Linked DNA regions of Homo sapiens. The protein of the gene in region 3 purifies or fractionates together with the protein of the main gene of each other region. This does not show direct contact. Each region holds a gene or a part of one and is shown on either strand. Other genes may lie near its edges. The genes, in order: FADS3, COQ8B, SLC2A5, ALG1, RBFOX3, SMIM8 and SLC25A17.

Region 1 (3,780 bases), on a different chromosome or scaffold from region 3:
ATCGGCTCACTAATTGTTCACAGCTCTTGGACTGATTTTTTTCCTTGTACTTTCAGAGGCTTTCTCTGAATGGGCTAGCCAGAGCCATACAGCAGCTTATAGAACCAGTAGCTGGGTGGTGTTGTCCCCATGGGTCTGGAGAAGGGAGGCCTCCCAGTTGCTAAAGGAAACACCTTTGAAGAAAGCTGACTGAGGACAGGGGCCTCCTATTGTCCTCTTGCTAATGAGCCTACCAGCTGGTGAGTCTTAAAACGGAAGTGACAGCGGGCCCTGAAGTCACTGCCAGGACATTCTCCTACCACCCTGGGGGAAGAAAGCACTTCAGGCCCCTCCAGCACCCACTAAGAGGTAACACCTACATGATCTACTAGGGGTCCCCTTGCCTGCTTTTATAGGCCCAGGGCAGCTTGGGGACTGGGGGGCTGGTAGGGTGCCCCTTCTGGAATAACCTGGGCTGACTTGGCTCACTCATTACAGAGGAGGGGGCTGTATAAGTGCAGATCTCACCCCCTCTGGACATGAGTCTTGAAGGAGGGGCAGCAAAACTGGTAGAAAAAAGGGCAGAGGGAAGGCTGGGGGTCCCCAGGAAGCTGTCTGGGCCCCCAGCTACCTGCAGAGCTGGGGCTGGTGTACAGGGGAGCTGGGAGGGAAGAAGACTCTTGGGGTTCTACTGACCCCACTGGGTGTTTTTTTTTTTTTTTTTTTTTTTTTTTTTTGAGATAGGGTCTTGCTGTATCGCCCAGGCTAGAGTGCAGTGGTGCAATCATGGCTCACTGCAGCCTCAACCTCCCGGGCTCAGGTGATCCTCCCACCTTAGCCTCTCTCGTAGCTGTTAGTACAGGTGTGCACCACCATGCCCAGCTAATTTTTTATTTTTATTTTTTGTAGAGATGAGGTTTGCCATGTTGCCCAGCTGGTCTTAAACTCCTGGGCTCAAGCAATCCACCCACCTCAGCCTCCCAAAGTGCTGGAATTACAGGAATGAGCCACCACGCCCAGCCCAGAAAAACACTGAAAAATTTTTTTGAGACAGGGCCTCACTCTGTCACCAGGCTGGAGTGCAGTGATGCAATCACAGCTCACTGCAGCCTTGAAATCCTGGTCGTAAGTGATCCTCCCACCTCAGCCTCCCCAGCAGCTAGGACTACAGGCACATGCCACCATGTCTCATTAACTTTTGAATTTTTTTGTAGAGTCAAGGTCTCACTATGTTGCCTAGGCATGTCTTAAATGCCTGACTTCAAGCGATCCTCCCACCTCAGCCTCCCAAAGTGTTGAGAGTACAGGTGTGAGCCACACCTGGCCTCTAATTTTTTTATTTATCTTTTATTTTTTGAGACAGAGTCTTGCTCTGTCGCCCAGACTGGGTTGCAGTGGCATGATCTCGGCTTACTGCAACCTCCACCTCCCAGGTTCAAGAGATTCTTGTGCCTTAGCCTACTGAGTAGGTGGGATTAGAGGTGCAAGCCACCACACCAGGCTAATTTTTGTATATTTCGTAGAGTCGGGGTTTCACCATATTGCCCAGGCTGGTGTTGAACTCCTGAGCTCAAGCAATCCTCCCGCCTTGGCCTCCCAAAGTGTTGGGATTACAGGCATAAGCCACCACGCCCAGCCAATTTTTTAAAAATTGTAGTAAAATATACATGAAATTTACCATTGTAAGCATTTTTAGGTGTCCAGCTCAGTGGTATTAAGTGCATGCACAGTGTTGTCCAACCATCACCATCATCCAGCTCCAGAACCTTTTCACCTTCCCCAACTGAAACTCTGTCCCCATTAAACACTAATTCTCCATTCTCTCCTCCCCCTGCCCCGGCAACCACCATGCTACCTTCTGTCCATACAGATCTGCCTCCTCCGGAAACCTCATCTGGGAGAAATCACATGTTTGTTCCTTTGCCTCTGGCTTGTTTCACTCAGCACAATGTCCTTAAGGTCCATCCATGTTGCAGCACGTGTCAGGATGTCCTACCTTTTTAAGGCTGAGCCAGCGTGATGGTGAGTCCCTCTTTCTCCTTTGAAACTCCCCAGACACACACGCACATGCAGACACACCCACCAGCCCACACCAGCAGGCATCACTCAGACACTCAGAAACATGCCCACAATCACGGCCCACATGAACACTCAGCCAAACACAGCCTTGCACACATGGTACGCAAAGATGCAGCTGGCACGCACAGACACACCCGGCGCAACGTGCAAGCTGTGGCTGCGGCCCCAGAATCTCCTCCCTCCCAGCCCTTCCCTCTATCACCCCATGTCAGTTCTGGGGCCACCTTATTGAGCTGAGGATCTTGGGTCCAGATTGGTCTCCTCGCCTCCTTTCCCGTTGGTCCTGATTCACCCAGGCCAGCCCTGTCGAGGCACTGACAGGGGAGGACAGAACCAAGCCTGCCCCAGGGCCTTCAAGCCAGATCTACCCCTTGCAATGATAAGGGGAAGTGTGAGCCCCCTCAGGGCTGTGTCAGAGAACCCCAAAGCCATTGACAGGGCTCCAGCTGGGGAAGGGACAGGTGGGGCTGTGACAGTTCCCTGGGAAGCAGGCTGGGCTCTCAGAGCTGGGTGGGCACCCTGGGGCTGTGCTTCTCATGCTATCAGGGAGTGCGAGTAGGGCAGGGGCCTGGACTCAGGCCGAAACCTGGAAGCAAACAGCCTTCTCTGGAACTGGCTGAGGTCATGTGACCTGGTCCTCTGTGGGCCTCTCCTTAAGGATGGGGGTGCCAGGCAGAAGCTAAGACTCAGAGAGGTTAAGCTACTTCTTCAAGGTCACACAGTTCCATTTGACCGAGGTTAGATCAGAGTCCAGGTCTCTTCTCACTCATAAGTGAGAGTTGAACAATGAGAACACATGGACACAGGGAAGGGAACATCACACACCGGGGCTTACTGGGCGGGTGAGGGGCAAGGGGAGGGAGAGCATTAGGACAAATGCCTAATGTATATGGAGCTTAAAACCTAGATGAGGGGTTGACGGGTGCAGCAAACCACCATGGCACATGTATACCTATGTAACAAACCTGCACATTCTGCACGTTTCCCGGAACTTAAAGTGAAGAAAACAAAAACAAAAGCGAAAAACTGTGCTTGTCGCCACTCCTGGAACAGAGGGGAAGCAGCAGTTCTCCTAGGTGGTGTGCGGGGGTCCTTGCCGTGAGGCCAGTCACTATCTCAAGAAGCCAAGGGCCCAGCTGCTGGGAGCCTGGGCTGGGGGGCAGGAAGGCGGTTCTTGGACCTCATCAGTGGAGCCTCAGGGAACTGTGGGAGGTCCCACCCTCACACACCCTAAGTGCACCCAGGAACATCCACCCAGGGGTACGTGCACAAAGCCCTGTCCCCCCAACCCCCACACGCACCCAAGCGAGTGGAAAGCGGCACTCGACGTCTCTCATCGGGTACCGGAGCAGAGCTGGGTGAAAGTGCTGGAATCAAAACGGCACCCCTAAACACAAGCTCCTGGAGGTAGCGACAGGCTCTGTTCACAGTGGCATCCTCAGAGGCCGGCACAGAGCAGCTGCTCAACAGCAGGTATGAACAAGTAGACAAGAGCCAACCCTCCACAGCCCCCAAAGCAGGGGCACGAACCATTTTGCTGGTGAGGAAATGAAGGCTCAGCGGGAAGGGACACCTGCCCAGGTCCCAGTTAGTAGTGGCAGAGCTGGGATTCGAACCCGGGCCCATCTTCTGTGATGTTCATGCTCTCTCAGGATACAGAGACAGCTCAGCCTGGCCTTGGTCCCTGGAAGCCTAGAGTGGCTCAGTTGGCCCCAAGATCCC
Region 2 (4,307 bases), on a different chromosome or scaffold from region 3:
CCCAAAGTTGGCCAAGCGGCTGATGCGGGAGGCAGGCACCTTGCGTTCTCGAGAGCGGTCACTCAGCTGGGAAATGGGGACAAGGTCTGAGGGTGGGAAAGTGGGCATCGTGGCCAGAGAGTGCAGCCACTCTGCCACCACACCCTTCCCCAAGCTCAGGGGGCCAGCAGTATTCGTGGGGTGTTGCTGGGTGGGTGGGGGTAATGATACCTGGGGCCGGGGTGTCTTCCTGGGACGGGCCTCCCGTGCCCTGCGAATGTCCTCCTCACCCAGGCCTCTCCCAGGCCCATCCTGGTAAAACTTTTGGGCCCAAGAACCTCCACATGGTCCCTGCAAGAGATATACTTTGATAAGGAGGGGAGGACATGGGATCACCTGGCCCTTCTGGACCCCTCCTGTCCTTTTACCCTCTGAAGTCTCCCTCAGCCTCTTCCCCTTGGGGACCTGCTCCCTAGCCTCTTACCCAGCGGTGGGGCCCAGGCCCCAGGGCCCCACAAGGCCAACCAACAGTCTGGCCCAGCTGTCCACCGGTCCCCCGAAGTAGGCCCCCCACCTTCAGCCACATTGCCTGGAGGAGAAGAGGAGGGATTATTCAGGTGGGAGTTGCCTGGCTTCTTGGCCAGGCCCCCATGTTCCTCTGTGTCCACCCTCTCTCATTCCCACCCACTAAATACTTCCTCCACTATTAATAGATTCCCACAGTTTCTCCTGGTTCTCCCCTGGTTGCTAGGAACCCTTAGCTCTTCCTGCAGGCCTCCCAAAACCCACTTTCCCCCCTCTCCCAACCCTCGCCGTTGCTAGGGTCCGCCCCCGTTACTAGACACCCACAGTTCCTCAGGGGCTACCTCTCCACTTCTCTGAAACCCCCCTCGTTGCTATGCACCGCCTTCCCCTCTGTTGGCCCTGTAGGCACCCGCAATTCCTCCGGTGTCCCCCCGCCCGATCCCCACCCCGTTACTGAGCACCTCCCCCCGTTGCTAAGCACCCACTGCTCTCAGCCTCCGAGTCCGCAACCTGCTGGGGCCCTCCTGTGCTTCCGGGAGCCTCTGTATGCCCGCCCCCTTCGGCCAGCCAACCAATGGCGCGGCAGCAACTCGCTGACTGGCACGGAGTTTCTCCATCTGTGCGCGGGGGAAGGGGCCAGAGAGAGGCCCTAGCGATGGAGCCTGGAATTAAGGTGGGCATCGGGGGCCCATCTGGGGGGATTGCTGAGGCATCGCGGGAGCGCAAGCGTGCCCTGTCTGCCCTTCCACTCACCTCAAAGTGCCTTGTACGCGACAGACCCTTCTGTTCCCTACACTTTCTTGCAAAGTCTCCCTTACAAACCTGACGCCTCTCTTCTGCACGAATATCTTGCCAACCCCCCTTCTTATTTTTACCCCTGGCAGGCTCAACACAATTCCTTTGAATACACATTCTTCCCAGCAAACATTTCCCTTGCACATGGAGCCCCTCCACTTTGCACAAACACCCACATTCTGGCACCCAACCTCCTTCCTTGTGCATATAAATCCCTTGCCTTGCTTGCCAACTGTTTCCCGCTCACGCCTTCAACTCTCTCGTGTACATACCCTCCCCCCCACTTGCACACTGAGTCTCTGTTCCCTCACACACCCTGTTCTCTCCGCTCCCCGCCCACCTGCGGAATGGTGCGACTGGGAGCCCTCTGCTTCCTGTAGGCCTGACATTTCCCAGAACACACTCAGCCAAGATTCCCAGTGCTGAGTCAGGAACCTTGGCATCCCAGAAAACCACCTCCCATCCTATCTTTCTTTCTCTGTGTGTGTGTGTGTGTGTGTGTGTGCGCGCGCGCGTTGGAAAGCCTGCTCTCCCCACAACAGGCTGACTCACCCACTTCTCACAGTCTGGAATAGAGGCATCTGGTTGGGGCATCTTTCCCACCACTGGGAGAGGGAGGGATGCCGATGCTTCCCCCACAGAACCCCGCTGCCCCAACCCCTCTTGTCGGGAATCAGGCCTCTTTGTCTCTATTCCCGTACTGTGTGACCTCAGAAAAGCCCTCATCCCTCTCTGGACTTCTCCTTCCCAACCTGTATGAGGTACTAGGTGGGCTCCTGCCTTCGATTTCTCTCATTGGTCTGTGAAAAGGTGACTCATTTTAGAGCCTTGGACCTGTGCCCAATGTCTCCCCCAGTTGACTCAATTTCAAGACAAACCACCTCCTCTCCCCCTTCAGAGGTGAACGGCTGACTCAGGAGCTGGGTGGCAGCTCAGCCTTGGGGGCAAAATATATCAAAATCACCTAGGACAATAAATAATCCTACTGGGCTACAACTGACAGTGCCAGGCCCGGGGCCACATGCTTCACATACATGAGATCATGTCAGATAGCCCCGTAGCTGCAAGCAAAGGGTAGAGGCCGGCAGATCTCTGAGCCTCTGTTCTCACGTGTAAAATGGAGCCCTGGCATCCCTATTGTTCAGCCTTGGAGAATGAACTGAAATCGTGTCAGGGTCTGATACAGAACAAGTACTCTATACATGACAGAGATTTCTTACGGAAAATCCAATGGAGCGTAAGTCATTTGCTCAGGGTAGCGGAGCTGGGAACTGGCAGAGGAAGGTCTCGAACCCACACCCGTGGGAACTCCAAGTCTTTGAAAGTCCGTCCCGCCCCTGCGTGAAGAATGGGCGCGCGGCTGGACTCGTCACCGGGGGTTTTAGGGAAGGTTGAACTTGTCATTCAACCGTGTAGGGAGGGTGGTTTAGTCACAGGGGTGGAGGGAGGGGGCCCACTGGCGCGCCACCAGGACCCCGGTGCCCTAGATGCATACCTGGCCGCGCTTCGGATGCTCAGAGGCAAACCCCCTCCCCTTGGGAGGCGGAGTCGGACAAGGCTCCGTCTCGTTCCGTTCCGTCACGTCCGGTGGGGCGGGGCTTCGGGGCTTTCCCCTTTGAGGGGAGTATCGGTTAACCCTTGCGCGGCGGGGCGGGCTGGAGCTCCGCGGGCCGGAACCCGGGAGTCGGGGCTCCCCAGCCACACCCCTCGCGGGATTTAAAGGGATAGGAGGGGCCGGGTCGGCCGAAGCCCGAACCGAAGGAGCGGGCATGAGGCGCTGCCCGTGCCGTGGGAGCCTGAACGAGGCGGAGGCCGGGGCGCTGCCCGCGGCGGCCCGCATGGGACTGGAGGCGCCGCGAGGAGGGCGGCGGCGGCAGCCGGGACAGCAGCGACCTGGGCCCGGCGCAGGGGCCCCGGCGGGGCGGCCGGAGGGGGGCGGGCCCTGGGCCCGGACAGAGGGGTCCAGCCTCCACAGCGAGCCTGAGAGGGCCGGCCTCGGGCCTGCGCCGGGGACAGAGAGTCCGCAGGCAGAATTCTGGACAGACGGACAGACTGAGCCCGCGGCAGCTGGCCTTGGAGTAGAGACCGAGAGGCCCAAGCAAAAGACGGAGCCAGACAGGTCCAGCCTCCGGACGCATCTAGAATGGAGCTGGTCAGAGCTGGAGACGACTTGTCTTTGGACGGAGACCGGGACAGATGGCCTTTGGACTGATCCGCACAGGTCCGACCTCCAGTTTCAGCCCGAGGAGGCCAGCCCCTGGACACAGCCAGGGGTTCATGGGCCCTGGACAGAGCTGGAAACGCATGGGTCACAGACTCAGCCAGAGAGGGTCAAGTCCTGGGCTGATAACCTCTGGACCCACCAGAACAGTTCCAGCCTCCAGACTCACCCAGAAGGAGCCTGTCCCTCAAAAGAGCCAAGTGCTGATGGCTCCTGGAAAGAATTGTATACTGATGGCTCCAGGACACAACAGGATATTGAAGGTCCCTGGACAGAGCCATATACTGATGGCTCCCAGAAAAAACAGGATACTGAAGCAGCCAGGAAACAGCCTGGCACTGGTGGTTTCCAAATACAACAGGATACTGATGGCTCCTGGACACAACCTAGCACTGACGGTTCCCAGACAGCACCTGGGACAGACTGCCTCTTGGGAGAGCCTGAGGATGGCCCATTAGAGGAACCAGAGCCTGGAGAATTGCTGACTCACCTGTACTCTCACCTGAAGTGTAGCCCCCTGTGCCCTGTGCCCCGCCTCATCATTACCCCTGAGACCCCTGAGCCTGAGGCCCAGCCAGTGGGACCCCCCTCCCGGGTTGAGGGGGGCAGCGGCGGCTTCTCCTCTGCCTCTTCTTTCGACGAGTCTGAGGATGACGTGGTGGCCGGGGGCGGAGGTGCCAGCGATCCCGAGGACAGGTCTGGGGTGAGTGGGACCCATCCTGCCCTTGAGCCACATCACGCAAAACTCCTTATTCCTCCGCCTTTGCTTAGGAAGTTCTCTACCCAT
Region 3 (3,780 bases):
AAGGAAAGAGAAACAGATCAAAGGAGCTCATGCACAGGGGCCCTTGCTTTGGCCCATATCATCTGGGGACACTGGCCAGCTGGATCTACGGCCTTCCCGCTCCCTGGCCTGAGTCTAGACCCACTCACGTTTCTGCTTTTTGAGGAGGGTCTGTTTCATAAAAGGCAAGGCAGCTGGGTGTGATGGCTCGTGCCTGTAATTTCAGCACTTGGGGAGGCTAAGTGGGGAGGATAGATTACTTGGGGTCAGGAGTTTGAGACCAGCCTGGGCAACATAGTGGAACCGTTTCCACTAAAAATATGTATATGTGTGTGTGTGTGTGCGCGCGCATGATATATATGGCCTGTGTGTATTTACATATGGTGTGTATGTCTGTGTGTGTATGGCCTCTGTGTGTGTGTGTGTATGTGTATATGGACATGGCCTGGTGTGTGTGTGTGTGTGTATATATATATGGCATGTGTGTGTACATATATATATATATGGCCTCTGTGTGTGTGTGTGTGTGTATGTGTATATATATGTGTGTGTGTGGGTGTGTGTGTGGCCTGGGTGTGTGTGTGTGTGTGTATAGGGCATGTGTATGTGTATGTATATATATGGCATGTGTGTATGTGTGTGTATGTGTGTATGGCCCAGGACCCCTAGCCCCCAGCTTTACCTTATAGGAACAGTAAATAAACCAATGCAGAGATAGTTTCATACACCTTTAAGAACAAGTTATATGTCTCTATAAGCATTTAAAATGTCAACACATATTACGGAATATCTGCATTTCTGGGATTTCTGTAATGCCTGGACTACTTCTGAATCCCCAGTATTTAAACTTGTAAATATTCCCATCATACTTGAATCTGGTGGAGGGAAAACTTACTCTATTTTATAGAATGACGTGTTGCCTGATGTCAATTAAAAAAACATAGGCAGAATTTAATTTTGCAGCTTCCAAAGTATTTTCACATATATTGCCCTATTTAATTCTCCTAAAAGCACATCCAGAGGCTGGGGATGGAGAGGAAGTTTCACTAGTCCAAGTATCAGGTACCAAATCCTGAGTCAAATGGAGGCTCAGGGACGTGGGTCTCTGAAGGGAGGCTCTCAGGAACAGAGTTTGGAGTGAGCAGAGGTTGGAGCTGCTGTTGATGGCGGGGTATTTGATAGAACTGAGATAGGAGGGTACCTGAGGCCATGTTTTCCTGTTTGGCAATTCTACCCACAGATGTCTCTGCTCAGTATTTGAAAAGAGACATCACAGTTCATTAATATCGATTCTTCCTCATTTGCAGAGCAAAGAGGGGCAGTCTTTAAAGCAGCTCTTAGCATGTCTAGGTGGGAAGAGGGAGCAACACCTCACAGGCCCAGGGCAAAGGGCTGCAGAGGAAAGGAAGGCCTCCTGGGAGCTGAAGTGGGAGGCTGTGTCCTCACCACTTAACAAGAGCCACTTAGCAGCAAGAGCATCTTGGTGAAGGATATTAATAAAGGGTCAAACCTCAGGAGGTTTGTGAAGAGATGGGGTTACCTGTACGTTGGTGGAAAGCAATCTCTATTTTTGTCTTTAAAATGACTCCACTAGGACCTCCCAGCCAGCCAGTTCTGATACGAGAATCAGAGCAAAGTGGCTTTTTTTTTTTTTCGAGATGCGAGTTTCGCTCTTGTCGCCCAGGCTGGAGTGCAGTGGTGCGATCTCAGCTCACTGCAACCTCTGCCTCCCAGGTTCAAGTGATTCTCCTGCCTCAGCCTCCTGAGTAGCTGGGATTACAGGCGCCCGCCACCACGCCTGGCTAATTTTTGTATTTTTAGTAGAGACGGGGTTTCACCATGTTGGCAAGGCTGGTCCTGAACTCCCGACCTCAGGTGATCCACCCGCCTCGGCCTCCCAAAGTGCTGGGATTACAGGCATGAGCCACCGTGCCTGGCCTGGCTTTTGAAGTTTAAATTCCTCCTGCTGGACACTGTAGCTCACCCCTGTAATCCCAGCATTTTGGGAGGCTGAGGCAGGTGGATCACTTGAGGCCAGGAGTTCGAGACCAGCCTAGCCAACATGGTGAAACCCCATCTCTATGAAAAATACAAAAAAATTAGCTGGGCACGGTGGCACATGCCTACAGTGCTAGCTACTCAGGAGGCTGAGGCACAAGAATTGCTTGAACTTAGCAGGTGGAGCTTGCAGTGAGCCGAGACCGTGCCACTGCACTCCAGCCTGGGCAACTAAGCAAGAGTCCATCTCAAACAAACAAACAAACAAACAAAAAGTTTAAATTCCTCTGAGCCAATGAATACCTTCAGTCTTCCTGCCAAGAAGTTGATTAGTAACAAATCAGTGAACTGTGAGCATGTTCCAGTAAAAGTCATACTCATCTTGGCACCCCCCTTGTCAAGGTAGTTGTTTACTTCATTTTAGAGTGAGCAATGTGGTTCTTGTTCATATGGGTGGTTTTATTTTTGTGTTGGTTTGTTTGTTTTGTTTTTGAGACAGAGTTTCACTCTGTTGCCCAGGCTGGAGTACAGTGGCACGATCTCGGCTCACTGCAACCTCCCCATCCTGGGTTCAAGCGATTCTCATGCCTCAGCCTCCCTAGTAGCTGGGATTACAGACCTACTCCACCATGCCCAGCTAATTTTTGTATTTTTAGTAGAGACCGAGTTTCACCATGTTGGCCAGGCTGGTCTCGCACTCCTGACCTCAAGTGATCCAACTGCCTCAGCTTCCTAAAGTGCTGGTATTACAGGCATGAGCCACTGCACCCGGCCATATGCGTGGTTTTAAAATGAGTGTCTAAGCAGCACACAGCTTGATGATCCACTTTGCTGACTTGCTGGAGGTATGTGAAAAACTGTTGGCAAATGGATTATGCCCCTAATGGCCAGTGTTCTCAAGCCGTGATCTGAGGACCCAGGGATCCCGAGACCTTTTAAGGGTGTCTGTGAGATCAAAACTATTTTCATAATAATCCAGAGATGATATCTGCTCTTCATTCTCTCTCTCTCATGAGCATATGGGAGTTTTCCAGAGACTTCTTGCCAGGCCACATCACAACTGACCTGACCCAGAAGTACATCTGAGAATTCAGCTGTCTTCTATTAAGCCAGACATTAAAGAGATTTGCAAAAATGTCAAACAAGGCCACTCTTCATGTAATAGGCTTATTTTAAAAAATGAATTAATATGTCTCTCGGTTGCCATTTCTAATACAGTAAATATTGATCAATGTAACCCACATGAGCAAAAGCTCTTTGGAGCCCTCAATAATTTTAAGTGTGTAAAGGGGTCTGAGACCAAAAACTGAGAACTGCTGACTTTAGAGTAAAGGCTGGGATTTTTAACTGATTTGTTATCTATTGGAGCCTAATATTTCTCTGCTGGAAACAATTCTGTATTGTTAATGGTCAATAGAAAAGTGATTGGACCTGCTTACTGGTGGCAACTTTTAGGAATGTATTTTTCAAAATGTTGAGCCCACTGCAGAGAAAACCCACAGGTCAGGGCAAGATGGCAGAGACCGGCCGGGCATGGTGGCTCACGCCTGTAATCCCAGCATTTCGGGAGGCTGAGGTCAGGAGTTTGAGACTAGCTTGGCCAACATAGTGAAACCCCATCTCTACCAAAAATACAAAAATTAGCTGGGTGTGGTGGCGGGCAGCTGTAATCCCAGCTACTCAGGAGGCTGAGGTAGGAGAATCAGTTGAACCCGGGAGGCAGAGGTTGCAGTGAGCCAAGATCATGCCACAGCACTCCAGCCTGGGTGACAAGAGGGAAACTCCATCTCAAAAAAAAAAAAA
Region 4 (3,780 bases), on a different chromosome or scaffold from region 3:
CCACAGGCCTGGGAAGCCACTGGCAGGAGAGTAAGACAGCGCAGGGGTCCACAAACATTTCTTAAAGGGCCAGAGAGTAAATACTTCAGGCTTTGCGGGCCACAGGTTCTCTGTTGCAAAACGCGATTCTGCTATTGCAGCTCAAAGGCGGCTGTAGACAACTCAGAAGGCAATGAGTGTGTTGTGTCCCAGTGAAACTTGATTTACAAAAGCAGCAGACTGGCCTGTAGCCTTAGTTTGCCAACCCCTGGATGAGTGGGTTCCCAGGTCTGCAGTGAGAAGGGGAGAGGCCAGGGCAGTGGCGAGCAGGAGAGAAGGCAGCTGAGGATGGGAGGCCTACCGGGCCCTGAACGGAGAGTGCATGCTGCCCAGCTTCATGAAGAGCCGGTGCTGCAGGTCCAGAGGTGTCTCTTTAAAGAAAGATGCGGGCTTGTCGTAGACGGTCACAGCCCTGCAATGAAATCATGACGGGGCTATTGGGAGGGCTGAAGAAAGGCCTCAGGAACAGAGGACTCAGAGGCTCCAGGAAAAGAAGGACGCTTGGGGAATCCAAGTCTCAGATGATGACAAGAAGAAGCCTTGCAATTACTTGGGAATGCACAGAGAGACGTCCTAGGACCAAAACTGCCTGGACCCCCTGGCTGGCTAAGAAAGAAACTCTGCCCCCTCCTCCCCCAGCTTCCCCAAACCAAAGACCACCTCCCAGGCCCTCAGTATTTCAAATTGCCCCTCAGCAGGACGGCAGCAGGCAAGGCAGCTCTCACTGCAGCCAATCAGGGGCCCCGCGCCTCTCCCAGGCCGCCGTCATCCCAGGCCATGGTACCTGATGTGCCAGTTATCCGCCAGGTCTTCTCGCATAGCATTGGTAACACACAGGTTCAGGTGGGACAGGCGCCCAAAGAACTTCTCGTACCTGAAAAGAGAGATCAGCAGTCAGCAGAGCCCTAGACAGGCCTCCGCTACCACCACAGCGTGACTCGACATCCCTCAACAGAGAAAAGGCCGCAGAGCTGGGAGAGTTTGAGCTCCCTGAGCCCCAGCTGTGCCAGTGTTCTTTCTTTATGCTGTATATACCCTCCTTTATGTTGTGTCACTTGTTGGCTTAAATACAATCACTTTAAAAGGAAACTGCACTCCAGCCTGGGCAACAAAGCAAGACTCCGTCTCAAATAAATAAATAAATAAATACAAATTTAAAAAAATAAATAGAAGGACACTGTGTATCACTGCCAAAGTGAACATCCTCTCTCTTGCTGTAAAAGGAAGAAATACAGGCCAGGCGCGGTGGCTCATGCCTGTAATCCCAGCACTTTGGGAGGTGGATCGTTTGAGGTCAGGAGTTCGAGACCAGCCTGGCCAACGTGGTGAAACCCTGTCTCTACTAAAAACACAAAAATTAGCCAGGCGTGGTGGTGGGTGCCTATAATCCCAGCTACTCAGGAGGCTGAGGCAGGAGAATTGCTTGAACCCAGAAGGCGGAGGCTGCAGTGAGCCGAGATGGCGCCATTGCACTCCAGTCTGGGACATAGAGTGAGACTGTCTCAAAAAAAAAAAAAAAAAAAAAAGGAAGAAATACAATGAAGGCCTCACTAGCGATCTCAGCCACCCTGTGCTACCACTGCAAAGGCTGTAAGGTCACGGCTTGCTCTCAACGTGGGGCAAAGGGATTCAGTGAGCATTGTACACATTCTCTCCTAACGGAGACTGAGCCCTGATCGCAGGGTAGAGCCGGAACACGGCATGCGCGATTCTGGGTTATTTATCACCGCCAGGGTATCATCGCCTGTTCCTCTCAAGATGCAGAGAAAGCTCGGAAATGGGCTTGCCTGGGATATTTTGGTCCTCACACTTAGCTGTGTGGCAAGAGGCATAATCGTTCTCAGCCTCAGTTTCCTGACTTGTAAAAGGTACACCCTCCTGAGGTGCATAGAGATTGAACAGGGTAAAATACAAAAAGGGCTTGGATGGAGGACTGGCATGCAGCAGGTGCTCACCATTGACCATTCTGCTCCATTTGCTCAACTAAGCTGTTTGCTGCTGCTGTCACCACTGCCAGTGAACAAACTATCAGGGCGAAGGCCACAGCCAGCCAATGGCCCAAGGCCGGAAGTACACGCAGCAGCTGGACATGCACACGGAGGCTGGATGTGCACCTGAAGGCTGGCCGTGCAGAGTATAACAGAGATGTTATAGTTGGGCTCAGAGGACAGCAGATGACCTTCCCAGCTCCACGTCCCACTGCTACCACTGGCCCTTCTTCCCTCCCTGTCACATCAGCTGCAGCAACTGTGGCCCACTTCTCCAGCTACCAACAGCAGCCCTGGGTTTTAATTTGGGGATCTGCCCTCACCCACCCTCTGTCCATGAGATATGGATGCTCCTGAGACCCAGCTCTTCTGCTGGAGCACTTGCCCCCTGGCCTCAACAGGCAGATCAGAGGAAGGCAGGTAACCTACATGAGCCAATCAGAAAGGGCTGCCCTCCCCAATGAGCCTACGTGAGGACAAGAGCTAGGAGAGTTCCGGGAACCACCACCAGAAGGGAGTGTGGAGACAGACGTGAGCTGGGTCCCAGTGACACTGCTGAGCTCGAAACCAACCATTTCCACAGACACTTCCATTTCATGGGCCAAAAAATGTGGTCCTTTGCTGAGGCCTGTTTCTATCATTTGGAACCAGCATTCGGCCTGATTCACCAGCCTCACCCCACCTCCTGCAGAGCCCACAAGGAACCGACTTCCGGAGGCCCACTATGGCCCTTCTTCTCACTCATCCTTGAGTGGTTTAGGGGACGGTATTTTACCCTCTTCCTAGACTCTCACCACTTGGCCAGCAGAACGAGGGGATGGTTGGGGCCATGCACCAGACCCATGATGGAGTAGCCATAGTTGTGCCAGTCAATGACGAGCTTGCTTCCACAAAGGCAGCCCACGAACCAGCAGACAGCAATGCTAGGCAGACCTGGGGGGTTCTAGGAAAGATAGAGACTTGAAGGGGAGGAAACCCAGACCATGCTAGGCAATAAACCCAGTAAAAATAGTCACAACACACATGGTGATGAGTCTGTTATCTTTACAGAGCTCTTGATAATAAGCAGAAGAAAGACCCTCTCCACCACCAAAATAGATGTAAAAAGTCATAAAAGAAACAGAATGGGCCAGGTGCGGTGGCTGATGCCTGTAATCCCAACACTTTGGGAGGCCAAGGCAGGAGGATCATTTGAGCCCAGGAGTTCAAGGCCGGCCTAGGAAACACAGTGAGACCTCATCTCTACAAAAAATTTAAAAATTAGCCAGGTGTGGTGGGACACACCTGCAGCCCCAGCTACTCAGGAGGCTGAGGAGGTAGGATCACTTGAGCCCAGGAGGATGAGGCTGCAGTTAAGCTATGATTGTGCCACTGCACTCCAGCCTGGGCGACAGAGCTAGACTCTGCCTCTAAAACAAACAAACAAAAACCAAACAAACAAACAGAACCAACCTGAAAAGTCCAAGATCATCAATAATCAAGGAGGCAAAAAACAGAACAAAGAGATGGCATTTTTCACCTGTTGGAATGCAAATTCTAAAAAGGTCTAACAACAGCTGGTGATGGTAAGCATGGGGGAGAAGAGGTACCCCCACTCAGCGGGGGCCAAACTGACCCAACCTTACTCTAAAGCTATCCAGTAACATACACATTTTTAAAATGCATCAACTTTGACTACACAATTCCACTGCTGGGAAGTTACCCTAAGAAAGAAACTGGACTTATACAAAAGGCATATGCTCGCTGTGCTTGG
Region 5 (4,209 bases), on a different chromosome or scaffold from region 3:
CTCCCAGCCCCGCTGTGGCTCCCAACCGAGGTCACTGGGTGCGGAGCATTTGCCGCAAAGGCCCATCCGAGTAAGGGGCGGAGCCTAGGGACTTCCCTGGACTCCTGGCTCCTCCTGGCACCCAGAGGCGACCCGAGGTCCCCGGGGTGGGCACGGGTCTCTCTAGGCCCCAGGCCCCTGAGGAAGGTGGATCAAAGCAATCACCCAGGTTCCCTTTTTTCTTTGGGGGGAGGAGGGTGGATAGCTGCTAGAAATGGACAACTCACCCCAGAAAACCCCGGCCGTGCAAGCGCAAACAGCCCAGCACCAGTGGCAACCCCTGCCGCACGCACGCAGCCACCTCGCCAGGCCCAGGCTGTCTCGGCTTGGGTGCGTCCCTTCAACCGTGCTTCTTGCTCCTTAACCCCTTCAGTGGTCCCCACGTCACCCGCTCTGTCTCCCTCCTGGGGACAGCCTTGCCCTCCCAGAAGCTGTCAGCCAGGAAATGAAGGGTTAAGCGTTGCTTCCAGGAGTGTGCGGTGAGCGGTGAGCGAGGCGCCCACGCAGGAAGGCCTCCAGTCCTGGGGGAGGGGCGGGGGGGCCAGCCTCGGTCCTCGGCCAAAGGGAGCTCCTCGCCCGCAGGAGGCGGAGAAGGAAGGCGCGCCGGGATGGTTCTAAGAAGGCTCCCCTCCTCCGCCCCCGCCATGCCGCCCCCACGCCCCCACCCCGCCGGCGCTCAGTGACCTGGGGCGCCCCTGCAAGAGGCCCATACCCGGCTTTCATCAGGCAGCGCCTTCTCGACAACTTTTCTCCCTCTCTCCCCTCACAATTTTTGCTCACCTGGAGGGTCGGTTTTTAATTAGTGTAATATCCCCGTGAACAACGCAGCCTAATTAAGACATCCGTCCCGAATCCGCGATGCACACTTAATGAGCAGGTTCTGCCGCAATGTTTATACTTTTTTTTTCCATTATGTTTTGCAGACCAGTAAAACCGAAGCCGGCTTCCGGCTGAAAGACCTCATTACGGGCGACCCCACTCCATTAGCCTCCTACCTGCTCCACGCTAAGTGCCCGGGGCGCCCGGGTGCATGCCCAAGGCGTCCCCGAGTCCAACCTGCGTTTGGAGCAGGAAATTAGCAACCTGCGCGCCCGAGAAGCGACTTCACCACCAGCTGGGGCAGGAAGGGGGACTTAAACCCAGGGATGGATCCCTTGGGTCTCTGTCCTTAGCCTCCACCGTGGGGTGTCTCGCGCGTCGGGACTAGCGGCTCCGCGGGACTCCTTTTTAAAAGTGATCATTAAATAAATCAGGTACCTCGCCAAAGCTGGAACGGAAAGGGGAGGGGGAGGCAGCTCTGTTGTCCAGGAGTTTCTCCCCACCTCGCTGGGCCCCCGCCCCCACCAGTGGACTCCGGGAACATCCCACCCCCACCCTACGTGATACCAGGGATCCCAGGGCCGCTTGGGGACCCGACAGGTTCCCAATGCCCCTCCACGCGGGGCGCCGCGTCTCGGTCCCCGCACCGACACTGCAGGGCTGCGCGCCAGGGGAGGCTCCGCGTCCCGGGGAGGGAGGCTGCGACCCCCAGCACCAAAATGACCACTGGCCTCGCGCCACCCCGAGACGCCACAGAAGACCACCTTCCCGAGCGTGCGAGCCCAACACGCCCCGGGCGAGCCCCACCACCGCCCGGGGCCACCAGGGCAGAAAGTTTGGGCCAGGGGCGTGCCCGGCTTTCCCAGCCCGGCCGCGCTGCTCGAGGCCCTGGGGGTGGCCGAGGCTTCAGAGAGGCAGCCTCTGCTCCCGTTCCAGCCTTCCTATCGTGCTTGGGGACTCGGCCCGGAGCGCCCCCAGCCCGCCCCCTGTAGGGCCCTGCGCGCCGCTCGCCCCTCGCTGCTCGGCCCCCGCGCACACCGCGGTGCTGCGGGCCCCGCTCCTATTTGGGGAGCTGTGGCAGCCCCTTCCTCCCCACAACTCCTTTGGGTCATCAACCTCTCAGCGACCCTCCTTTCAGAGGACCCCGGCAGGGCTCTCTCCGGGCCTGGGTGCCGCGACAGACGCACGTTGCACCACCGCCGGGTCGCCAGCCTCTCTCCCACCCGCGCGGGCTCCGGCTGCCTGCTCGGACGCGCCCCGCGGGGCCGGGATCTCCGCGCGCCTCTGCCTCCCCCCGCCGGGGAGTTCCCCGCGCCGGGCATTGTGCCGCCGCCGCCGCCGCCACAGCCACCACCACCGCCACCGCCACCGCCACTGCCACCGCCACGCAGCGCGCGGGACTCCCTGGCGTCTCCATGGAGCCCGACCCCCGGGCCTTCCCATTCACAAAATCGCCCCTCTGGCCCACGGCCGGACAGAGCGTCCAGACCCCAGCCCCGGAGGGACCCAGGGACCCCGACCCCGCGCAGGGACCCCTGACCCCGAGGGCGCCACCCCACCCCACGCGCCCTCGGGTCAGCCCCGGCCGCGCTCAGCAGCCCGCCTCCCACTGCGGGGTCCCATGCGCCCCTCCGCGGCCATGTCCCCCTCCCCCAGCTCAGCCCGATGGGAATGACCGCCGCAGAGCGAGGCGGGCGACGAGGCCAGGCTACTCACGGGCTCAGCGCTCCCCGCGGCAGGTGACTGGGGGCCGGCGGCCATGCCCCGGCTGCATCCCGGCCGCCGAGCGGGCAGCGGCGTCCTGGGGCCGCACAGGCACCGGCGAGCCAGCGGCAAGGGGCGCGCGAGGCCGGGCTCGGGCGGCAGCTGTGGCAGCTGCTTCTCCTCCGACCACGCGAGCTGCTGGGGCCCGGCTGGGGCCGCTGTCCGAGGAGGTTCTGCTGGCTTCGGAGCAGCCCCGCGCTCGCTCTTCCCTCGCCTCCTCTCTCTCTCTCTCTCCTCCCTCCTCTCTCCGCCCTCCTTCTCTCTCTCTCTCTCTCTCTCTCTCTCTCTCTCTCTCTCTCTCCGCCCTCCTTCTCTCTCTCTCTCTCTCTCTCTCTCTCTCGTTCCTCTGGCTCGTTCGGCTGGAGCGAGGCGGCAGCAGGAGCACGCGGCGGCGGCGCGGGCGGCGGTGGCAGCTCGAGCGGAGCGCGCAGCGCGCGGCATGGGAGGGGGCTCTGGCTGTCGCGCGGCCGGGGAGGGCGGCGGAGCGGGGAGAGCCATGACCGGGTGGGCTTCGGCGGTCAGCACCCTGCAGCCTTCAGCGCCAACTCCTCGGGGCAGGGGCACAGAAGAGGTGGGGTACACACGGAAGATCCCAGAACCCAGTGCTGCCCTGGTCCCTTCAAGGGCAGCCCCAAGCCCGCTGCCCCTCCCCACCTCCAAGCTATCTTGGGGGCGGATCAACCCAGGTGACCCTTAACAGGACCCCTGCCCTTGTGCCTCGCTGTCCCTGGGGGCCATTTTTCTTTGCCAGGCCCAGGGATCCCCAGCAATGGGACGTGGTCACCAAGCATCAGGGACGAATGCCACCCCACCCCGCATGCCATGCCATGCCTTTGAGTTGCCCACATACCCCAAACCCCCTCACTAGGCCCAGGTGCCCTGACTTCCTGGAGGACCACTGGAAAGGAAGGGATCGGGCCCACTCCGTGCTGTTAGTCCAGATTGGCCAACCCAACCCATTTAAACATTTCCACCTGTGCCTGGCTGGAGAGGAAGGACTGTGGGAGGTCAGCTTAGGATTTCCCTAAAATCAAAAGATCAGGTAGCTCCTGTCCCCAGTCCCAGCCTCCCCCAGCATCTAGAGTAAGGGGCCTGGTGTGAGTTCTGGGAGGGTCTCTATCCTTGGTGCAGAGGGAGCAGGAGAGCAGAGGCTGAGGACACAGTGGAGTGGGGACCCTCTGGAAAGGCAGGAGAGATCTATTGCTGGGGTCAGCCCACCACTGGCACACAACACCAGAAGTGGGCAAGAAGGTCTGGACGGTCCCAAACAGGTTTAGGCAGGAGGCTGAGTAATCATTTCCAAAACAAAAGACATTCTGGTGCAGCAACCAGGCTGGAGAAACGAGCCTGCACCATCGAAGGACATTTCCAAATTACACACAAACAGATCCAAACCCGTCCCCATGTCACTTTTGCTCCTGAAGGCTGCTCCTGGAACAATTAGCCTCCTCCTCGCACCTGACTGTCCTGCTTTTCTGTGTGAGGTGAAAAGCACATCATGGAATCTGGGGTTTGGTAGGGGCCTGGAAGACCCAGAGGCCAGGAAGAGGGGAGTATGGATTTGGAGCTTCTCGGTAGTAGGGGCTC
Region 6 (3,522 bases), on a different chromosome or scaffold from region 3:
CAGTGTTTGCCTTAGGAAATCCTTGAAAAACAATTTATCAATTGGACAGCTTGCTGATCTAGGCAAACAGCTCTTCCATCAGAAGATTAGACTACTCCCCTGGGCAAAGAGTTCACTTAACATTTATTGAACAATAGTTTACTAATCAAGACTTGCTTCAAGATCTAATCTGTTCTGTCAGGTACCTTGCCCATTCTCAACCAGATTCCTGCATTGAAAGACCCTTCTTTAATCACTTGAACTCAGACTTCCAAAAGACTTTAATATCTTCCCCTGACCATCCCATTCTTAAATACAGCTAACTTTGTAAAAGTGGTATTTCCCTTTAGTGCAGTAGATTTAATAAGCTTAGTTTTGTTTGATCATCAGGTTGTTCTGATGGTCTTGTGAGGGAGCTGGCAGTTAACAGTCCTTTACATAATTCTGTTTTAAAGTACAGGAGTGTTTCTCTACTTAAGATCTAAACTTCTTATTTTTAAGGGCTAATGTGGCTGCTTTATTATTATGTGCACATTTACACATAGAAGGTGGTATAGTATGGTGAAAAGATCCCTAGACTTTAGAGCAAGAAGATACAGGTTCTACTCCTGACTGAGAATCTCCCTGATCTTTGGTAAATCTCTTAGCCATTCTCAGCCTATTGTCTTAACCATAAACTGACAGGATTGGATCAGGTGAAGTTCAATGTTCAGAATCTTTGGACTATTTGAAAGGTATTTTATTTTTGATGGTTATACCCTCATTCAACAAAGAAAGGATGAAAACATCAACACATAGGCAGGCAGCTGTTGACACTCAGCACACACAAAGACTGTCCTACAACTTGTAGTCACTCTGTAAAAAGTATCATAGTCAGGTACTTGTTCCTAAAATTCAGTATGATTCTTTCCACACACTACTTTTCACAGCTTTGTGCTTGACTGACTCTAGTTACTTTGGTTCATTCACATAGATCTTACATGACTCAAGTCTGCACCTTGTACAGTTTCTGTTGCCCTCCTGCACTGCAATCTCTTGACAGTTCACGCAACTAATAACTCCTCTGCCACCAAACATCAGCTTATTCTGTTGAATAGTAAAAAATTCTAAAAGATGGCAATGTGTCATTAAATGCATAAGTTAAAAACAGAAGAACCCTAGTTTTGTGATAGCCAAAATACACAGGGAAAACAAAAACAAAAGAGTCTTTAAAAGGGATTTTGTATCACTGAAGTGCATTTTAAACTATATGAAGTACATTATACAGACAGGCATAGCAAATACATATTTGGGGCTCAGTAGTAAAGATTTTATTTAGTTTCATGTAAATTCAATTAGCTAAGTTCTTTAATACCTACAAATCACACATAATTACATTTTCATGTACCTTACAAAACCATAATAAAGTATGACAAATTAAAAATAACATTATGATAAACTCTGCCTGTGCTGTTATTATTACTTGGTAATATTAATAGCGACTGAAGCAAGACTTCAGAGGTAAGATTTACTACTGAGGCCCAATGACAATGATTTGGAGAATTAGGTATATATCTAGAAATGAAACGGGTCCAGAACCCTTGTAAGAAAGATTTGAATTCTATAAGGCAGAATCTGGCCAGACACAGGGGCCTAGCCTTGACCTCTGTCCTAGGCCCCTGGGCCAGGTGCCAGGACAACCAAGGCCATTCTGCTTCTCACCTCCAGTGGGTACTGACCGTAGGGCTAGGCTTTGTTTACACTCATTTTTACCCCCATTTCTGTCCCCACTTCCATAAAAGACACTTCAAAATGCTGATGCTTCAGAGAATAAGAAACATTCTGAAAAGGAAAAAAACAAAAAGGCCTGCTGGCATATAAACTTCAAAAGAAAAAAAAGGTACAATAAGGAGACCTTATCTATTCCTTATCCATTGAGTAGTTGTAGTTTTTAAATAACTATAAGAACACTTGGTCTTATGTTTATAACATTACAGTAACATTAATTAACACAAATTAACATAAACAAAATTAATTAACATTAATTAACATAAACACTAAAATAGATAACATTTAGTTGTAGTCAAAATCATCATACCTCAGTAAAACATACTTTTTTTTTTTTTTTAAAGAAAAACTCCAATTACTCTGGGATATTCTTAATCCTTATTTTAGTAGCTGAGTGGAAGGATCTTTTCCATTAAAATAAAATTCTGTCCCAAAAATAGCTAAAATGGAAACTGAAATATATGAACCATTTGTGACACTATAAAAACTACTTGTCAGAGCCAACTCAGTTTCTCATATCTCATATTTTTAATATTGACTTCAGGCCTTAAAATTTCTATTTATCTTTCTTTAAAAATATAGGTTCTATGCCAGGGAGAACATGAACATTTCCTTTGCAAGTAGCAAAACACAAGTAAACTTTCACGACAGCTGCACCGGCATAATTCATCTTAAAATATTTAAAACATCATGCAAATTTAACAGCATGGGTACTTTTATTATACAGAATTTAATAATTAACAAAAACAACTTCCATTCTCATGGCACTTTTATAAGAGGTAAGGAAAGAAAAATATTATGACGCTCACTCTGTGGAAAAAGAATGAGATAATGGCTGCAGCTGTGAAAGGACAAAATTTACGACAGTTGTCTGGTTGCAACTGCTATCTTCTCTCTTCATTAGCATGTTCTAGAACAAGAAACATGATACTGTACACTCACAAGGTCTTTCATTTGAAGATTTCAGAACCTTTAATAAAGGTCCATCTGCACTAACCAGCACTACTAATCCCATTTGGATGTTTTCCGCCTCATATAACTGTGCCCCTCACTATCAATAGCTTCATAGAGGTCCTTTTTATTCTCTTGTATTGCATGTAGATAACCAATATATGCCACGCAAAGTGAAAGAGTTACCAATCCGAAAGCCATTACAGGTTTGTTCTGTCAAAGAAAAAAAAATTATAAAGCTTTAGTAAGACTAACAATTTGAGGAGACCCAAATATCGGTTGCACTTTCCTCCTGACATGCCACATCTTTATTACAACACTAGCATTACCATGGCAATATTTCAATTAAAATCATTTATTCAGTTCTTTATTCAATTAGCTAAGCTACTGATTATCTAGAGATTATAGAAGACTCTTGCTTCTCCTCTCCAGGCTTTCTCCCATCTACACCCTGGACATCTCAGACCTCTACTCTCAGGAAGGTGACAGCTGGGAAAGGAGTGGGGCAGGAAAACTGGTCAGCACCCGGAGTTTTCAATGTTATCTGGGTGAAGTGGAGGAGCTGCTTAACTTCCTGGGTCCTGGGCCCAAGTCTCTCCATTTGCAAACTTCAAATTAGTTCATTTTATTAGGAAGTGAGGAATGAACTAGACATGCTATTCTTCTTGCCCAAGTCATGAATAACTGGCAAAAAACCTTTTATATAATAGGCACAGAAATGATGATGATGTATACACTCTTCTCTGGGAAACTACTCCATTACCTCAAGAAATTTAGTGATGGGAACAGCTATTATGCTGTTAACCTTGATTTACTCTTGGACAA
Region 7 (4,399 bases), on a different chromosome or scaffold from region 3:
AATATCTGTTTTTGAAAACAGTATTTTATTGGAACACAGCTCTGTCCATTCATTTACTGTCTACAGCTGATTTCACACGACCATGGCAATGTTGGGTAGCTGTGACAACGGTACACAAAGCCTAAAATATTTCCCATCTGCTCTCTTTAAAAAGTTTGCCAATCTCTATGTTCTTTTATAGCACTTAACTGTATCTAAAATTATTCTACTTATTTTTTATTTATTCATTTATTTTTTATTGTTTTTTTTTTTTTTTCTTGAGACGGAGTCTTGCTCTTGTCACCCAGGCTGGAGTGCAATGGCACAATTTTGGCTCACTGCAACCTCTGCCTCCCAGGTTCAAGTGATTCTCCTGCTTCAGCCTCCCGAGTAGCTGGGATTACAGGCGCCCACCACCATGCCTGGCTACTTTTTGTATTTTTAGTAGAGACGGGGTTTCACCATGTTAGCCAGGCTGGCCTCGAACTCCTGACCTCAGGCGATCCGCCTGCCTCAGCCTCCCAAAGTGCTGGGATTACAGGCGTGAGCCACCGCACCCAGCCTATTCATTTATTGTCTGACTCCCCTATTGCAATGCATAGTTCATGAAGAAAAAGACCTTCTCTACTGTACTCCTTGCACCTAGAACAGCGTGTGGCACATAGAATGCACTCAATAAAGGTGTTTAATGAACATTTATTGCAAGAAGGAAGAGAAAAACATTTCCCATCTTCTCACTTTCTTCTCTTAGATGCACTCCAACTATTTCCCCCACCACTCCACCAAAACTGGTCTTTTCAATTAACCACTGGATTTATCAACATGATAAATTCTCAGTTATTTCTCAGTCCTCACCTTACTTGACCCATCAGCAGCATCTGACCCAGCTGGTCTACTTCCTTCCCCAGAAACACTTTCTTCACGTGGCTTTCACTCTTAGTTCTTAGCTTCCCTCCTGCAGTACTGATCCATCCTTCGTTTGTCTCCTTTGCTGGTGCAATCTTATTTTCTCGGCCTCTTAATGGTTAGCCTGCTCCAAGACTCAGTCATTGAGATTCTTCTGTCAGTCCATACACACTTCCCTAGTGAGCTCATCTAGTCTCACGACTACTCTTAGGCATTTCAAACTCCTCCAAAACCAAAGCCAAATTTATCATTTCCCCCAAAACCTTCTCCTTCACAGCCTCTGCCATCCCAGTAAATACCACCATCCCTCCAGTTACTGAAGCCAAAAACTCTTGGAGTCAACCAACCCTCATTTTATAAATATATTCCAGGTCAATGATCACTTCTACCATGTCTGCTACCACCCGGATCCAAGTCACCATCATCTCTCGCCTGATAATTGCTTGTCCCCTGTTCCCTTACATTCTACTCTCAACACAGCAGCCAGGGTGATCACGTTTAAAGGTAAATCAGCAAGTTCAACAGCTAGCCAGAGTGAAAGTCTCACACAATTTGGCCCCCTGAAACCTATTTGCCTCTTTGTTCCCTCCACTCCGGAAACACAGGCCTCCATGCCCATCTTAAAGCAAGTCACGCAAGCGTCCATCTCAGCCTTCATGCTGGCTGAAAGGCTCTTCTGGCTGAACTGAATGAACCAGGCTTCCTGAATTAGGCATTTTCATGAAATGCTGTGTCACTTAATTCTCTAAACTCTGTGAGGTAGGTATCACTTCCCCCACTTTACAGATTAAGAAAGTAAGGTTTACAGGGCATCTAGCTAACAAATGATGGAGTTAGGGTTAAATCCAGATTAGTCTACAGAGAAGGTGAGCTCTCAGTGAAGTTTCTGGAGGCTAAACAGAGGATTCAGTGATGTTCCTCTGAAGTCACAGTGATTTTAACAGCTAAAGGTGTGTGCTAACAACTGGTGAAGAATATGAGAAAAGGCAGTCAAAGAGATAAAAGAACCACAAGAGGAGTCACCCAAGCCAAAAGTGGAAAGTTTTAAGGAAAAGAGGGGAGAGGGGAAGTGTCAAGTGGAACCTAGACACCAGAAGCCCAAGAATCAAGCGTATACCTCATAACAAACCACACTTGTGGTAGACAGGAACCCAGATCTTGATTTAGAAAGAAAGAAAAAAAAGCCAGGCACAGTGGCTCATGCCAGCAGTTTAGGACGCCAAATCGAGAGGATCGTTTGAGGCCAGGAATTCGAGACCAGCCTGGGCAACACTGCCAGACCCCAAAAATTTTTTTTAAAAATGTAGCCGGGTGTGGTGGCTCACACCTGCAGTCCCAGCTACTCAGGAAGCTGAGGTGGGCGGATCGCTGGAGCCCGGGAGATCGAGGCTGCAGTGAGTCGTGATCGCGCCACTGCACTCCAGCTTGGGCAACAGAGCAAGACCCTGTCCGGAAAAAAAAAAAAAAAAAAAAGGATCTATCTTCTCCTGCCAATAACGGTGCCCAGAGCTATCCTACTAGGTATTGCCACTTGCCCGCGGCAAGCGTGAAGACAGGCTGTAGGGAAGCATGTGACTAAGCAACACGGCTTCACACCTACGTTCTCCTCCGGGCCAGTAAAGCAAAGTGTGTGAGTGTGCGGTGGTAGCCTGACCTTAAACTTCCCACGGCAAAGATGCGGACCCTGAGCGGGCACGTGTGAACACGGCTCTCTACCCCGCAGTCTCTAGGAGACCAGGAGGTGGCGGAGTCTCGGCCCTTACCCCGAATTCCTCCAACAACTTTCCGCCAATGGCCCATTCCTCTCTGCCCCACAGTCATGACAGTGGACCCCAACCCACACTACCTCCCTCTCAGACCCATCCCTCAGGCATATCCCGGGACTGGCCCCCGAGAAGCCTTATAACCCGTTGCGGCCCGGGCGTAAAGACCCCGTCTCACCACGGCTCCGGCCACGGCGTGGACCAGGCTTTCGTAGGACAGCACGGAAGCCATTGGTGCGGCTCCTCGAAGACCCAGCCACACTTTTCCCACAGATGCCGCAGCCAGTGGAGTTAGGAAAGGAGCACCGGAGCTCAGGGTGTGAGAGTCGCAATCCCCGCCCTCTCAAACCCGCCCGCCTGCCCTAGAACCACTTCCGGGTCGCGGGGCGGGAAAGCGGGGGGGGGGGGGCGGCTAAGAACGCCCCTGAACGCTGATTGGCCCCTGTGGGCGCGGGGCGGGACAGCGAGGTGTTCGCGGGGCTGGGCTCCAAGGCGCAAGGCGGCCTGACACCAGGTACCCGGCTCCCGGTTCCTCCGACGTTCTCTGGCGTTCCCGGGCCCTGACCAGTTCCTCCATCTCAGAAGTCTTAATGGCCTTCTTTTACTCTGGTGACAAAGATGGGGAAACTCAATGAGACTCCAGTCTCCCTGTTTCTCTGCGCCTGAGCTCTTTTCTATTCTGAAAGTCACATTTTGGCCAAGAGGAAAAAAACTCACTTGTGGACTTGGAAACTTCTTCCTCCAGAAAAACCCTTGAGTGTGGTGGGAAGAGATGTTGAGCATCAGGAGCCCAAAATACAAGACGCGAGTGGGAGCCTCCCCCTAGTTGGCAACTATGGAAGTCATTTAACCTCTTGGGTTTCCTCTGTGAAATGACAATGTACTAGTACCAACAATCCCCATCTGCTGTGAGGATTACGAAAGCCAATTTATGTAGTAGTACTTCATAAAATACTGAAGGAAAAAAATTTTTTTCCATGTTGCAAAGTGACTAACAAAATTACACAAAACTAAAGCAGCCACATTCAGCTTTAACCTGTCATACTGTGAGATTCTGCTTCAGGATGCTCCTCAGGGACTCAGGGATTCTTTCCTGAGACACCATCACCACTTGTCTTTACCATGTTTCCTTTTAGAATATCCTCGTGATAACTCCTCAGTGCTGACTACATGCCAGGCTTAGTGTTTTATGCCCATCATCACACTTAATCCCTGGGAGAGGGGTCTAACAAAGTTTAACCTGGCCGTTTTCACAAAATTTGCAGAAGATACTGCTTCCAGGAACATTCCCATCACGCCATAGAATCATGACGTGAAAGTGAAGGACCAAAAGTGAAGCGAAGATGATTTTGGGCTGGGCGCAGCGGCTCAGGCCTGTAATCCTAGCACTTTGGGAGGCCGTAGCGGGCAGATCACTTGAGGTCAGAAGTTTGAGACAAGCCTGGCCCATATGGCAAAACCCTGTCTCTATTAAAAATAGAAAAAATTAGCCGGACATGGTGGCACGCGCCTTGTAGAAATTACAATGTTGAAACTGCAGCTACTAGGGAGGCTGAGGCAGGAGAATCGCTTGAACCCAGGAAGCAAAGGTTGCAGTGAGCCAAGATTGCACCACTGCACTCTAGCCTGGGACAGAGTGAGACTCCTAAAAAAAAAAAAAAAAAGATTATTTTGGCATGGGAACATAGAAACTAGTTGGCTGTAAAACTTGAGAACTCAGTTCTCATTGACTCCTGATCAAATTGGGAGCT

The links.
Region 1: the proteins of SLC2A5 (region 3) and FADS3 purify together in Homo sapiens (affinity purification with mass spectrometry; one large-scale study listed by BioGRID and IntAct). This does not show direct contact.
Region 2: the proteins of SLC2A5 (region 3) and COQ8B purify together in Homo sapiens (affinity purification with mass spectrometry; one large-scale study listed by BioGRID and IntAct). This does not show direct contact.
Region 4: the proteins of SLC2A5 (region 3) and ALG1 purify together in Homo sapiens (affinity purification with mass spectrometry; one large-scale study listed by BioGRID and IntAct). This does not show direct contact.
Region 5: the proteins of SLC2A5 (region 3) and RBFOX3 purify together in Homo sapiens (affinity purification with mass spectrometry; 2 studies listed by BioGRID and IntAct, with this or other methods). This does not show direct contact.
Region 6: the proteins of SLC2A5 (region 3) and SMIM8 purify together in Homo sapiens (affinity purification with mass spectrometry; one large-scale study listed by BioGRID and IntAct). This does not show direct contact.
Region 7: the proteins of SLC2A5 (region 3) and SLC25A17 purify together in Homo sapiens (affinity purification with mass spectrometry; one large-scale study listed by BioGRID and IntAct). This does not show direct contact.

The regions. Positions count from the first base shown.
Region 1 is NC_000011.10:61,881,413-61,885,192, forward strand, and holds part of FADS3 (fatty acid desaturase 3), read right to left. Parts: intron 1-3,780. UniProt on the Homo sapiens protein: Mammals have different sphingoid bases that differ in their length and/or pattern of desaturation and hydroxyl groups.
Region 2 is NC_000019.10:40,714,068-40,718,374, forward strand, and holds the start of COQ8B (atypical kinase COQ8B, mitochondrial), read right to left. Parts: upstream 2,820-4,307; 5' UTR 2,520-2,819; intron 1,053-2,519; exon of another isoform or gene 986-1,052; intron 569-985; 5' UTR 566-568; coding exon 464-565; intron 331-463; coding exon 211-330; intron 67-210; coding exon 1-66. Other genes in the region: ITPKC (inositol-trisphosphate 3-kinase C), read left to right, coding at 3,069-4,223.
Region 3 is NC_000001.11:9,042,104-9,045,883, forward strand, and holds part of SLC2A5 (solute carrier family 2, facilitated glucose transporter member 5), read right to left. Parts: intron 1-3,780. UniProt on the Homo sapiens protein: Functions as a fructose transporter that has only low activity with other monosaccharides. Can mediate the uptake of 2-deoxyglucose, but with low efficiency. Essential for fructose uptake in the small intestine.
Region 4 is NC_000016.10:5,074,578-5,078,357, reverse strand, and holds part of ALG1 (chitobiosyldiphosphodolichol beta-mannosyltransferase), read right to left. Parts: intron 2,971-3,780; coding exon 2,822-2,970; intron 914-2,821; coding exon 824-913; intron 452-823; coding exon 341-451; intron 1-340. UniProt on the Homo sapiens protein: Mannosyltransferase that operates in the biosynthetic pathway of dolichol-linked oligosaccharides, the glycan precursors employed in protein asparagine (N)-glycosylation.
Region 5 is NC_000017.11:79,608,252-79,612,460, forward strand, and holds the start of RBFOX3 (RNA binding protein fox-1 homolog 3), read right to left. Parts: upstream 2,801-4,209; 5' UTR 2,575-2,800; intron 911-2,574; exon of another isoform or gene 820-910; intron 363-819; exon of another isoform or gene 267-362; intron 1-266. UniProt on the Homo sapiens protein: Pre-mRNA alternative splicing regulator. Regulates alternative splicing of RBFOX2 to enhance the production of mRNA species that are targeted for nonsense-mediated decay (NMD).
Region 6 is NC_000006.12:87,339,504-87,343,025, reverse strand, and holds the end of SMIM8 (small integral membrane protein 8), read right to left. Parts: intron 2,911-3,522; coding exon 2,752-2,910; 3' UTR 1,801-2,751; coding exon of another isoform or gene 1,705-1,800; 3' UTR 697-1,704; downstream 1-696.
Region 7 is NC_000022.11:40,816,369-40,820,767, forward strand, and holds the start of SLC25A17 (peroxisomal membrane protein PMP34), read right to left. Parts: upstream 2,979-4,399; 5' UTR 2,881-2,978; coding exon 2,827-2,880; intron 1,010-2,826; exon of another isoform or gene 835-1,009; intron 1-834.